Linked DNA regions of Homo sapiens: region 2 is linked to region 1. The links come from fine-mapping of genetic effects on gene expression. Tissue or cell type: whole blood. Region 1 holds a variant in brackets; the other region holds the start of a gene. All regions are shown on one strand. Distances are from middle to middle.

What was found. PIP is the estimated chance that this variant, and not a neighbour inherited with it, causes the effect.
Region 2: it holds the start of KCNMB4, and the variant in region 1 is fine-mapped to the expression of KCNMB4 in whole blood (TOPMed, PIP above 0.99). The same link has a PIP of 0.9 or more in blood mononuclear cells.

What each region holds. Positions count from the first base shown.
Region 1 is chr12:70,407,922-70,410,678 of GRCh38, reverse strand. The region is part of intron 2 of KCNMB4 (potassium calcium-activated channel subfamily M regulatory beta subunit 4); the gene reads right to left. Among named protein-coding and RNA genes, the nearest start is that of KCNMB4, 43 kb to the right of the region's middle. The variant T/G (reference allele first, on the strand shown) is at 1,205.
Region 2 is chr12:70,364,830-70,367,586 of GRCh38, reverse strand. KCNMB4 (potassium calcium-activated channel subfamily M regulatory beta subunit 4) reads right to left here and starts at 1,297. Exons shown (of 3, transcript NM_014505.6): 1 at 517-1,297. The coding sequence starts at 852. RefSeq lists a silencer at 1,242-1,481.

The sequences.
Region 1 (2,757 bases):
GGGAAGAAAAGCATATGTGTTTACTAAGTATTAGCTATGGTGCAAATGTGTTTCTTACAAAACCAAAACAGAAGCTCTTAAGATGGGTAATGCTATCCTCATTTTACAGGCGAGGAAACCAAGATGGAGAAGCTGCACAATTTATCCAAGGTCGTACAATTAATCAGTGATAGAGGAGAAATGTAAATCCCGATGCTTGATGTCACATGACTGCTGCCCTTAAGGAATTCATAATCTATAACAACAAAAAAGTACATATTCAACTCTCTTAACAGTGTGATAAAAGCAACCATGGCAGTGTGGGACTGCAGAAGAGGAAGTAATGAATTATACCTGAAAAGGTGGGAGAAGGTTACACAGTAACATTTGAGGTGAATCTTAATAATAGTAATAAAAACAATAATAGCAAACACTTTTGTAGGAATTATTGTGGGTTAGGCACATGCCATCTCCTTGATATTATATCCCACTTCTGCAAAGGAAACTGAGGCACAGATAGATTTAAGTAACATATCTAAGACCACGCCACTAGAAAGCGTTTGGTTCTAGAGTTCATTCTAGGACTACTGTGCTGTGCTAATTCCCAGAAGTAAAAAAGGTGAAGGTGTCCCCAGGTGAGGAGAAAGAGACAGGAGCAAAGGCATCAAGGTGTATGGGAAACAGAATGACTCGAGGTGACTGATGCAGCTGGAATAAAAGTTAAAATATGTAAAGCAGACCATATTACCACTCTGCTTAAAACCAACGACTGGCTGCTCACTACATTTTAAGAGAAATCTAAGCCCTGTATAGTTCTTGCTCCACTCTCCCACTCATTCACAGTTCTCCTGACACACTGGCCTTCCAGTACCTAAAACCACCAAGCTCTTTTTTGCTGCAGAACATTGGCACATGGTAGTATCTCATTCTGAAATATTCTCCCCCTAGCTTTTTACCTAGCTAATTCTTGAACATCCTCTGGTCTTGACCTAATTTTAATTTACACAGAAAGGTCTTTGAAATTCCCCATCATGCCGTAATATCTCATAGCAGCATCCTCAGCTTCCCCTTCATAGCACTACCCTACTTTGTAATTATACTACTGTTGTGACTACAGACTATAGGCTCCATGAAGGCAAGGACCGTGTCTGCTATTTTGTTGTTGTTTTCTTGTTGTTTTGTCTTTGGTTTTCCTTGACTGGCACATAATTCAATGGCAGAAGTT[T/G]AAGTTGGAATTGGAAGAGCATGGCCTTTATCCTATAGATAAGAAGAAGGCAGAAAAATTTAATCAAGGACTGTGACAAGATCAAAAGGAGGCTTAAACAAAGCAAAACAAAACCTAGCGTGGTGTGGATGACAGACAAGAGAAAGACCAAGGCTGACAGACTAGTTGAGGATGCCTTCAACAAGCCAGGTGAGAGCCTGAATCCAGGCAGTGGTGGAGGAAGTGAATTCAAGAGACTGCACAGGTGGTGTGGCTGGATTTGTTCATTTGACGTGTGTGTTTGTGTAAGCCTGCTCCGTGTACTCTGTGACCTACTATCCAGAGGTATAAAACAAAGTACTAAAAAGTAAACCTGTATAGAAAAACTCTATGCTCTCCAACAAGAGGAAAAGATAAAAAGACTGATCACTCCTTTTGGCCTTTAGATCCAAAGGGAATTGAAGAATGAATAGTTATTTTCAAAGGGACAAGCCCTCTTCAAGGAGAAGCCAGTTAAGGCAAAGATGAAGAAAGGAAATTGTATGAAAAGATTGAGAATACAGAGAAGTTTTCTGGCAATGAAAAGGGGGTTTCAAAGTATACTCGTTAAGGGGGTATAAGTTAGGTTTTGCTGAGAAGGAATAAGCCAGGGAAAGACTGAGAAAAAAAATGAAAACATGATATAGGGAGAATTGTGAACTTACCTGAATAAAAAAGTGTAAAAACAAAATCTACACATTTTGGAAGGAGACTGAGCCTCGAGGTTAAGGGAGGCAAAGAGTGGAAAGGTTATATGGGAGGGCCACAAATGGACTCAACCCTTGGCATGAATTCACCCCAGTGACGCCTCTGCAGAATCCTTCCTGGGTGTAGAGAGGGATGGCCGCACCGAGACTGACTGCCCACGGCAGGCACAGCTGCTTCGGGGCTGCTTCGGCCGCTGCAGACTCAACACTGGAATACAGCTTGCCTCAACAGGACTTAACCAGTGGAAAGCTAAGACTCCTCTAATCTTTGTCTTAGATTTTTAAAATAACACCCTTTTCTTGAAAGTCAAAACTGGACTATTCTCCCTAATTTCCTGCATTTGAGCGAAATCGAAAGGTTTCTTTAAATATAAAGTTCATCTTTTCAAGAGCATCTGGGAGTCCCTACAGTAAGTCTATTTTAATTTCATATTTAGCAGTAGTAAAAAGTGTACTAAGAGTAGATGGCACCAGGGAGCTGCCATTTTTCACACCTCCAAACAGCACTCCTGTTTCCTCTCACATATGTCATGGTAAAAGAGCCAAACTCCGAACGCCTGCCTTCCCAGAGTCGCTGAAAAATCCTGTCTTGAGTGCTGCTGGGCTGTGATAGACCACCCCCGCTTCTATCTACACCCCCACCGTTTGGGAATGGGACAGTGAGATGATGGATAGGGAATGTGTATCCGTTCTGAAGGAGGTATAATGAGCTTAAATTTACTGTACTGAAGTTAACACAACTGCTATAGGTGACATAATAAGAAATTTGTATTTGGTCTCTGCCCCGGTTCCTGGCACAGAACTTGTAAAACCCTTGTAATTTCCTGA
Region 2 (2,757 bases), 43 kb after region 1:
AGTTGAAAATGCCTATGTAGAGCGAAAAGGTGAGGAACTCTCTCACAACTTTCGAGAGTCCCCTCGACCTTTCAAGGAAGGTCATTCCATCTGAGTTCTAGATGAGACCAGCTGAAGCTCGGACCTTGACCGTGAGCTGGAGTAGGTGGATCCCCGCTAACCACTGGCTTTAAATGGAGGAAAAGTTAACTTTCTTGGCTCCTTGCACTTCTCCAAACCCAGTCCGGTAGGCGCAGGACCCGGACTGGGTCGAGGCCTCAAAATCTGAGACCAGGCAAGACAGGTTTTAAAGTAAGCCTCTGGGCACCACTGGTCGCCGCGCGTAAACCCACCTGAAAAGACCGGAGCCCTGGGGCTCCCTGATGTAGTCATTCCTGGTTTGAGCACAGCCTGCGCCACCTGGTCTCCTCCTAGCAATGCGAGCACACGCCGAACCCTCCCCGCGCGGAGTCTAACACCGACGCTGCCTCCAAACCTCCCTCGCGGGGAGCCCCTGGGTGCGCGGGGCGTTCTTACCTTGGGGTTGGTCAGGAGCTGGTGCTCGTCGCTGTGCAGCAGCGCCCTAGAGTTGGACTCAGAGTTGTTCACGTAGACCTGGACGCAGGGGTACTGCGAGGTGCCCCTGCAGTCGGCGCCACAGGTGAAGGTGCACTCGAACACCTCGCCGATCTGCTGCACCGACAGCACCGTGCAATTGGCCTCCGTGGCTTGCAGATCCTGCAGCGCGGGACTCAGCCAGCAGAAGCCGAAGATGAAGAGCGACACGACGCCGGAGATGATGAGAAACAAGCCGAGCCGGATGCTCTTGTCCTCGGCTTCCGTGTACTCGTAAGCCACCCGGAGCTTCGCCATCGCCCCCCACTCTCGGCGGCTGGCGTGCTCCCCCCGCCCCCTCCCGCCCCCGGCGCCGAGCCCGACTGCCTCGGGCGGGAGGAGCCGCCGCCGCCACCGCCGCCGCCGCGCGACAGCAGGGGAGTGGGCGGCGAGGGGGAGCGCGCGAGAACAAAGGGGCCGAGGCCAGCGACGCCCCCGGCGGCGGCGGCGGCAGCGCCCCCCAGCCCCCCAGCCGCCGCCTGGGCCCCGCGGTGCAGCAGCCGCTTCAGAGCCTCCTGCACCCTCGGGCGCGGGGAGCGCACGGACCGCTCCAGCTTCCAGCGCCCCCTGCCAGCCTCCGCCCCCGCACTCTCCCCGCCTCCCCCACCCCGCCTCCTCTCGTCGGGTGTCTCTCTGTCTCCATCGCCCGCTGGCCGCTACTCCGCTGACTCGCCCGGCAGCTGCCCCAAGGCTAGGAGTGTCTGAGCTGGGGCGAGCCCGGGGGCTCCCCCGTGCAGGAGGAGGCTCCGCCCCGCCCCGTCCGCAGCAGACCCGGGCCCTTCCGCCCCGCCCCGCTCCGCCCCGCCCCGCCCGGGGGCGTCTCCTTTGGGCGAGGGGCTGACGGGCACAAGCGACAGCGGCGACTTGCAATCGGAATCTTCGCTCACTCCCCTTAGAGGGACGTCCGAGATGAAAGATTAAGATCAATTTAGCTTAACCGGAGGGAAGTTAAAATAATAATAATAATAAGAGGGGAGGGTGGAGTTCAAGTGGAGCGGCGGGAATCTTGAACTCCAAACGAGTACTGGTCACCTGCAGGGAGAGCGGCCAGGCTCCGGGCGCACCCCGGGAAGCGGGCACGGGTGGCGGTGTGGGAGGACACGAGCCGCCCAGGCCGGGCGGATCGAGGTGAAAGCCCCAGGCTAGCGGTGTGCGCTGGGAGGTCCCCGGGGACGACTGAATCGCAGGTTCCCATGCCACGGGCGGGCTGGCGCGCGGTGGTGCCGGAGGCGTGACCCAGCCGCGCCCACGCCGCCAGCGGCTGCGCCCAAGGGAGCGCAGTAACCGTCCAGTCCCAGGACTTGGGCCTCCTAACCGTCTTGGCGCAGACCCGCGCCCCCTGACCCTGCTGAGGCCGGGAGGGCTGCAGGATTGGAGTTAAACAAGCTGAGTCAGGTGGAGTTTGCTGTGGAGGCAATGTGCGTGGGGGCAGGAGGCTGGACGAAGGAAACTTGCTGCTTAGGTCGTCGGTGACCCTTGTGGCAACTTAGGTCTCTGGCAGCCGAGTTGACCCCAACTTGATTTGCCCCCATGGCTGGGGCTGACTGAGACCAAAGGAAAAAGGTGGAGAGCTTTGCAGCCTGGAAAGAAATACCACTTTACCCATCAGAAAAGTACTCTTGCTTTGGGGCTCGCAAGAACAGAATCATTTCTGTCGTTTCCCTCCTTAGGAGTCTTGCCACCCCTGACCCGCCCCAGGATTTGTAGATGAGGTTTCCAGGAGCGCTGCTTAAAGCGACAGCGCCGGGCAGACCCACTTTGGGACAGGTACTGTTTCTAGACCTGTGTTCTGCTCTTAATTCTTGCCGTTGCTCCCTCCTCCCCCAATTACGCTAACAATGCTTCAGCCTCTATTGTTTTCGCGACCTTTTTAAAGTTAGAATGACCTTTTCCCAAACTACACTTTTATCATAAAATCAAACTTGAGAACTATTTATATGTACATTTCGAAGAATAAAATCAGAATATTAACTTCCTTGCAAACTACATAAACTTTTTTTGTTTGCTTGTAAGTCTCAAATGAATAAACTCTTAATTATGTTCCTGATGAATACGGAAACATGGAATCATGGAATTCTTGACTTCTCTTTCCTGGACTTCAAATGTTACTTAACTGGTATTGAGTACCTTTCGACTGCAGTTCTGATAACGTTATTTTGAAGC